Regions from separate parts of the Homo sapiens genome. Here region 2 is linked to region 1. A link means that fine-mapping ties the variant in region 1 to the expression of a gene that starts in the linked region. Tissue or cell type: whole blood. Region 1 holds a variant in brackets; the other region holds the start of a gene. All regions are shown on one strand. Distances are from middle to middle.

What was found. PIP is the estimated chance that this variant, and not a neighbour inherited with it, causes the effect.
Region 2: it holds the start of CMTR2, and the variant in region 1 is fine-mapped to the expression of CMTR2 in whole blood (TOPMed, PIP above 0.99).

The regions. Positions count from the first base shown.
Region 1 is chr16:71,244,348-71,248,587 of GRCh38, forward strand. No RefSeq gene overlaps it. Among named protein-coding and RNA genes, the nearest start is that of HYDIN, 16 kb to the left of the region's middle. The variant T/C (reference allele first, on the strand shown) is at 1,736.
Region 2 is chr16:71,287,834-71,292,073 of GRCh38, forward strand. It overlaps CMTR2 (cap methyltransferase 2), which reads right to left and starts at 1,569. Exons shown (of 3, transcript NM_018348.6): 1 at 1,303-1,569; 2 at 1,045-1,104. LOC102723786 (a long non-coding RNA gene) reads left to right here and starts at 967. Exons shown (of 4, transcript XR_933707.3): 1 at 967-1,122. RefSeq lists silencers at 1,322-1,691, 1,772-1,841.

The DNA of each region.
Region 1 (4,240 bases):
TGCACGCGCACGCACACCCATGCTCATGCATACCTCTTGAGAGCCGAGGTAAAGATGAGGACACAAACCTAAATCCACATAAAGTGGAATACAGGCCATGTTTTTCTGTGTGTTCTTCGTCTTTCTGACCAATTTGGTCTATATCAATGTCTGCACCCTGCCACAAAACCCTTAATAAACAGTCTTAACTTACGCTACTGGCAACTGTAACTGCCAGAGTTATCAAGAGCCATGGAAGACTGAAACCTTCTCTACCATGAATAAATGGGACTCCCAAAGAGGGTGACAATACCAGTGGTTTGGTTACAGCTGCTGCTTGTATCAGATGATCCATAGATGTTTTCCCACCCCAGAATAACAGTTTTTGTTCCTCTCTGAGGAATGAGTTTGGTTATTAGCTCAGGAAATGAAACAGTTTCCAAATCAGTGGTGACTATTTCTGCACAGTCTCTGCCTTTTCCCATAGCACAGCTTCATTGAGCTGGTAAGAGCTCAGTCTTCATAAATATGTAAAGACAGCATTCATCTTCCTGATTAATTAATCCAGTAACTGATCCAAGCTCTTGCCTATGAGTGCTCTTGGACCCATGGCTCCTATTCTCTCCACTCTGGTTTCCCCACCTGGGTCAGCCCTTCTCTTCATCTATTGTTGGGTAGCGTATAACAAAAGGGGTCCCTGGTCTAGACTGTTCCCACGTTCTCCAGCAGGCTGCCTATGAGAATTTCACAAATTCCTCATGCACTTTTAAATTTTAATAACGAAGATTGTGGATTTATGTGAATAGCGACAGATGGAATCTGAAAGCCAATTAATTTTGTCATTAAAGTATAATATAGGACAGCCGTATTACACAATCAAGCATGATGAATTATTTTTACATCCTGTGACATAGACAACTGGCTATCCCATGAAAGAAGGAATTCAATTTGCATTTAAATGCCATTCCCAGAATGTGACAGAGGCTCTCTGCATTATATAAGTTTCAAGAAGCTGAGGTTTGGCCAATTAATTTTAAGAAGTGTTTGTGATTGAAGTGCAAAAATGAATGGAGAAGTCAATACCTCAATGAAGGATCTTGTGAATGGCCCTCAGCCAGGGGAACCAGCCGCGCTGTGCAGGGGATTCCTGACCCACAGCAACCAGGAGATAAAAGGTGCTCTTGTTTTAAGCCACTAAAAAAGAAAAAATGAGTTGGGATCTTGTTGAACATCCACACACACACTTCTGGGCAAGTATATTTTCTCCTTACCATCTTCTCAGCTTTTCTAAACTTGATACAAACGATGCAGCAAGTGGGCAGGGTGTGTTCACCACCCTTTGGGCCATGGGTACCTGGAGAGAGATATGCATCCCCAGTGAGGTCTACACATTGTACACGCATGTGCATGTATGCACACACACAAATATACACATAGTTTCATTAACTCTTCTGGAGAAAACAATTTAAGAAAATGCCAACTTCTTTTTCAGCTAATTAAATGCCTATAGCCCATTAATTATAGATTAAGGGAACTAGTGTTTACCACAAAGTCATCTGGAGCTAGCATCTGAAGAGGTTGAATTCCATACTGAGAAGTTGGAACATTATTCTGTATGTGACAGAAAACCATTCTAAGATTTATGAAGATGGAGTTGGTATTAAACCACTAGTAAGTTGAAACTACTAAGAAGAATAAAATGGAGAGGTAGGGAAGTGGAACCTGGCAAACCAGTTGGGGCTATGGTAATCATTTA[T/C]GGAAAAAATAATACGGGGTTAACCAGAGGCAGTATGGATAAGAGAAGGGGGGAATATGGAAGCTCTGGGGCAATGGCTTCTTAGAAATTGACTAGGTGGATGGAGGATGGAGAAGAAAGAGTAGATGCAATTTCTAGCCTTCATGACTGTGTGTGTGATGAGGCCATTAATAGAAACAGCAACTATAGGAGGAAACACAGGTTTGAGGAAGAGGGAAAAACGATCATACTCTCACTTTTTAAACAATTTACTTACTCCTTTGATATGATGGGATGACAATACTACTTTACCTCTATGATCTTCCTCCCCCAAACCCATAACCCCAGTTTAATTATGTGAAAAACAACAGAAACAGTCCAATAGAGGGGCACCCTATAATACCCTTGACCAGAACCCCTTAAAATTGTCAAGGTCAGCAAGAAAAGTCTGAGAAACTGTCAGATGAGAGAGGAGCCAAAGGGGACAGGATGGCTGAATGCAATGTGGGACCCTGGAGGGGATCCTTGAATAGAGAAGGTCAGATATTAAGTAAAAACTAAGGAAATCTGAATACATTGTAAACTTTAATTAATAATAATGCATCAGTATTGGTTCATTAATTGCAACAAATGTATCATAGTAATGTAAAATGTTAATACTAGGAGAAACTGGAGAGTGGGGTTTGGGGAGAACCTATGAGAACTCTGTAAAAACCCCCTTATAAAGAGGGGTGGGAGGCTTGCTTACTAAAGTTTTGTTTGTTTGGTTAGTTGATATTTTTTTCTTTTTGGGGACAAAGTCTTGCTCTGTTGCCCAGGCTGGAGTGCAGTGGCACCATCACAGCTCACTGCAGCCTTGATCTCCCAGGGACAAGTCATCCTCCCGCCTCGGCCTCCTGAGTTGCTGGGACTACAGGTGCATGCCACCACGTCTGAATAATTTTAACATTTTTCTGTGGCGATGTGGTCTCACTGTGTTTCCCGGGTTGGCCTCAACTGGTCCTCCTGCCTTGTCCTCCCAGACTGCTGGGATTATACATGTGAGCCCCCATTCCCAGCCATTTTAAAAACTTTTGTGGCCGGGCGTGGTGGCTCATGCCTGTAATCCCAGCACTTTGGGAGGCCGAAGTGGGTGGATCACGAGGTCAGGAGTTCAAGACCAGCCTGGCCAAGATGGTGAAACCCTGTCTCTACTAAAAATACAAAAATTAGCTGGGCATGGTGGTATGCGCCTGTAATCCCAGCTATTCGGGAGGCTGAGGCAGAGAATTGCTTGAACCCAGGAGGCGGAGGTTGCAGTGAGCCAAGATCGCGCCTCTGCACTCCAGCCTGGGGTACAGAGCAAGACTCCATCTAAAAACAAACAAACAAACAAAAAACACCTTTTGATATCAGTAACCCATCATGGGAGTTGGGGGACACCGATTAAATAAGCTCTTGTTCCCCATGTGCAATTACTCCATTACAGATTAGACCACATCACTGATAACGACCACCTACCTGGATGAGAAAGCTGAGATGGCCGAAAGCAACTCGTTGCCTTGCGTAAAAGCTACAGTTTCTTGTACTGATGTTGAAATGGCCAGAAGGGGCATGTATGAGTGACGTAGTCATGTGACTGTGGAGGGGAAAGCCAGCCTGAGAAGGACATGTTTTTTTCAATGGCCGAGTTGGAGCTGCAAAGGTACTATGAATTCATACTTCAAAACTGTGCCTTTGAGTTTGTTTGCTTGTTTGTTCTCTGTGTGTATGTGTGTGTGTGTGTGTGTGTGTGTGTGTGTAGATGAGGTCTCACTATGTTGCCCAGGCTGGTCTCAAACCCTGGGGCTCAAGCAATCTTCCTGCCTTAGCCTCCCAAAGTGTTGGGATTACAGACAGGCATGAGCCACTGCACCCTGTGTGCGTGGCAGGGGGAGGGGGTGAGTGGCTGGGTGGGCGTGTGATTGCTGGGCCTTTGGATTTCATCCAGCAAACACTCACCTCCTGGGCAAGCTGGGTACTGTTAGATATTAGGGATATGAGGATAAATGTGTGAATGCGCCATGTCTGCTGCCCATAAGGAGCTCACAGTCTACTCTACAGACAGGATGGCGAATAATTACAGTACATTGCTAGAGCCAGGATGTTCTGTGTTAAAAAGAAAAAGAGTGTTTTGGAAGTGCTAAGACAGGAACAATGAACTCTACCCAGGAGGGTGGTGAGAGAAGGCAACACCAAAGAAAAAGCTTGTGAACTGGGCCTCCAAAAATAAGTAGGTTCTTGCCACGTTGAGTGGGAAAGGTACTGTAGGCAGATGATTCAACATTTGCAAAACACAACGACATTCAACAGCATCATGTGCTTGGGTAAGTGGCAGCTGGAGCATCCGGCAAGGGATTCACAACCTGGGAGCTGTGAGAAAGGTCTGTTAGGGAGAAGAAGGGCTGAAATCAGGGAGACCAGGTAGGAGGCTACTGTCATAATTAAGGCTGGAGAGGATGAAGCTCTACAATCATGGGATAATGTTAAAAGATGCCCTCACTCCTA
Region 2 (4,240 bases), 43 kb after region 1:
GGCATATAAAAGTTTTTTTCAACAAGCTCCTCTGTCTTAATTCGCATTGTGCTTGCTGGAAACTACAGCCATGTTTAGATCTCATCTATACTCTATTTCGGAAAAAGTCTAATTTTAATCATTAACTTCACATACTAATTAACGGCTGTAGTTAAGCTGTGAAACCTTACCTAAGCTAATAGGAAATTACCTTCACATGAGGACAACTTAAGTGATTCAGACACTCCACCGTTCTGACTATACTTTTGCTGTGTTGCCACCTAATTTTTATTACTACTCCCTTACTCACTACTCCAGCCAAACAGGCCTTTCTGCTGTTCACTGAAGACACCAAGCACATTCCAAGACAAAAGTCTTTCTGCATTGGTGGTCCCTCTGCCTGGAATGCTCTTTCCCCAGCTGTCAGCACAGCTAACTCCTTCACCTCCTTCCAATATTTGCTCAAATGTCATTTTCTCAGTGAAGCCTACCTAAGATTGCATCTTGCATTCCCCATGCCTCTTACCTCGCTGTATTTTTTTCCTATGGTACTCATGTACTTCCAACCTATAACTTCCTTCTTTTTGTTTACTGTTTATTATTTGTCTTCCCCAAACTAGAATGTAAGCTCCACAGGACAGAGATCTTTGTTTTGTTTACACATAGACCATTCCAAGAAGTTGGACATTGCCTGGTACACAGTAAGCACTCAGTATTACTGAATAAATGAGTGGATATCATACTTAGCACAAAAGGGATCTCTCTCTTCAGGTTCTGAATATGAGTCATTAATAGTGCACCTCAACTTCACTCCAGCACTTAAATGCATGACTTAAAAAAAAAAAAAAAAGCATGTGGCTTACAGCGTGTGTGGAAAAATTTTCCAGTATATGATCCTCTGAGCCTTTCATTAAACAGTCCTTTGAGCTTTGTGACATCATAATTCTGCTAAGTGGGTCGCTATTACCATTCTCATATTGCAAACTCAAGTAGGCAGTTATGTAGCCCCCGCCCAAATTAGTGAACCCAAAACAAAACCCACAAGATCTCATCAACAGTTTTTACCTCACAGCTGACACTTATAAAGGAGTTCCAAGTGCTTCCGCCAACTCCTCCTACCAGCAACTGTGAAAACAACGGCCAGTGAGTATCCAGGGCTGACTTTGGGCCGGGCACCCCATATCTCATTTCATCTAGTGAAGTAAGTCCCAAACCCCACTCCAGAGGCCCGGTCCCTGACCTGGAGGAAACTCAGTCCCAGCCCCTGGCTCACCCGCTGGGAAGTCGAAGGAGGGCCCGGAATCGTACCCAGGCCTGGATTACCTTCGCCCACGCCCACTGGGGCCCCAGTGTCTGGAGAGGCTGCACTTTACTCTCTCGAGGAAGCCATTCTGCACTTCCGCTCTCGGGGCTGCTTCCCGGGATGGTCCCTCCCTTTGGGTCCGCGGCGCCTCCAGCCACAAGGCAGGGAGATGGTGCGCCGGACTGGGGGGAAGGCTGTCCGGACCCGCCCTCGCGGCACCGGGAAGCCAGTCCCACCTCCGGGCCCCGCAGCCGCGAATGCCGGCAGACAGGGACCAGGAGGCACTCAAGTCCCACTGCGCACGCGCCCTGTAGGCCGGGCCGGAGTCACGTGCGCCAACGTTACGCACGCCGGCGACTCTCGCCTCGCCTAGGCCTCAGCTCCCTAGGTTTTGCTTCGCGGAGTACAGAAGCTGGGAGGCGCCAGCCTCCCGCCCCCGGCCACTATGGCAACGGAAGCGGCGCGCGCAGGCGGAGCATTCTTTGGCTCCGTCCCGAAGAGGGGTGAAAGGGAGAGGGACAGGGAGGCGAAGGGGAGGGGGAGGGGGAGGGAGGGAAGGGACGGGGCAAACCTGTCTGTCAGGACGTGCTGGTTCCGCTCACTGGCTGCTGGCCCCAAGGGCTTTCAGACTCTTCTGGACAGTTGTTACTTCCTGTACAGACTGGGTTGAAACTGCAGCTCAAAAGACGATAGGTTAAAAGCCAAACTAGGGAACTGCAAGATAAGATTGTTTATATATACATGACATAATATATATTAATTATGTTGCTTAATAAGCCAATAAGAAAAAGGCCAACAACCCCAGAAGGAAAATGAGCAAATATTAGAACAGGCCTCCCAAAAAACAAAAAAGTCAAACAAATAGCCACTAAGGATATACAAAACTGTTTAAACTATTATTAGACAAGAATGGAAATGAAAACAGCAAGTTTTCTTTTTACTCGGTTTAGCAAAGATGTAAAACCTTGGTAATGACCACTGTTGGTGTGACTATGGGGAAACAGGTTTACATCTGTGGATGGAAGAAAAACGTTATTAGAAACCTTACGGAAGGCAAACTTATTTATTTGTTTGTTTACTGAAACAAGGTCTTACCCTCACCCAGGCTGGTGTGCAGTGGCTCGATCTCGGCTCACTGCAGCCTCAACTTCCCCGGGCTCACGCGATCCTCCTAGAGAGATGGCATCTCCCTATCTTAGGCTGGTCTGGAACTCCTGGACTCAAGCGATCCGTTGGTCTCGGCCACCCAAAGTGCTGGGATTACAGGCATGAGCCAAGCCGCCTAGCCCAGAAGGCAAACGTTGAAAAGAGACATGCACTTTGGCTGGGCGCAGTGGCTCACGCCTGTAATCCCAGCATTTTGAGAGGCCGAGGCGAGCGGATCACGAGGTCAAGAGTCCGAGACCAGCCTGACCAACATAGTGAAACCCCGTCTCTACTAATAATGCAAAAAATTAGCCAGGCGTGGTGGCGGGCGCCTGTAATCCTAGCTACTTGGGAGGCTGAGGCAGGAGAATCGCTTGAACCCGGGAGGCGGAGGTTGGAGCGAGCCGAGATCTCACCACTGCACACCAGCCCGGGCGACAGTGCGAGACTCCGTCTCGGGAAAAAAAGAGGACATGCATTTTAACCCAGCAATTCCTCCTCCTCGCAGTTTATCCTTAGGAGATAATTAAACAGCTGGCACTCACTTTGGACAAAATGTTCATTTCAGCATCTCAATAACATAGCCAAATGGAAATACTCTAAATGTCTACTTTAAGAGAATTAATTAAATTATTACAGTACATCTATATAATGCACATATATGCATTATATGCAGCCATTAATAGGCTGTATGTGTCAACAGTATTGCATGAAAATAGAAGAATATTAGAATTATGTGTAGAGTTTTTAACCATTTATGTAAATAGATATATAGACATAAATGTAAAATTCATTTTTTACAAGTCTTCCAGAACATGGACCAATGGAGAAAAGATTATATTTTCACAAAATAGTGGTAGGTCATTTGTGTCTCTCCATGCAAAAAAAATTGTATTTGGACCCTCCTTACATCATAAACAAAAATACATTTCATTTGGATTGTCAGTCTGTATTTTAAAAGTTAATAAGAAAACATAAGAGAACATCTTTGCAACCTTGAAGTAGTCAAAAAGTTTATAACAGGACACAAAATACTAATCATAAAGGAAAAATGTATAAATTGAACTATATTAAAACTAAAAATATTTAGAGCCTGTAGTCCCAGCTCTAGGGAGGCTGAGGCAGGAGGATGGCATGAACCCAGGAGGTGGAACTTGCAGTGAACCGAGATTGCACCACTGCACTCCAGCCTGGGTGACAGAGCGAGACTCCGTCTCACAAAAAAAAAAAAAAAAAAAAAAAAAGAAAGCACGGGCTGGGTGTGGTGGCTTATGCCTGTAATCCCAGCATTCTGGGAGGCCAAGGCGGGCAGACTGCTTGAGTCCAGGAGTTTGAGACCAGCCTAGGCAACATAGTGAAACCCCGTCTCTACTGAAAAACAAAAAATTAACCTGGCATGGTGGTGTGCACCTGTAATCTCAGCTACAAGGGAGGCTGAGGTGGATCACCTGAGCCCAGGAGGTTGAGGATGCAGTGAGCTGAGATCACACCACTGCACTCTAGCCAGTACAACAGAGTGAGACCCTGTCTCAAAATAATAATAAAGTACAGGGATTTATTGCAAAGTGAATAGCATTTATACAAGTAAGTGCTATATTGTGTGGTACAAGTTAAGTGTTGTAGGAGTCTAAAGAATGAAGTTAGTAGGAAAAATATAGGAAAAGACTAGGGAAAAAGAAACTTTAATTTCTGTTCTTTTAAGGGTGAAGTTACGTGGGGAAGGGGAGTGCCAGCCTAGCTCAGGAAAATAATGAGTGAAAAAACAGGCAAGAGGACAGGTAATGTAGATTTGCAGAAAAGGGATGGAAAGTT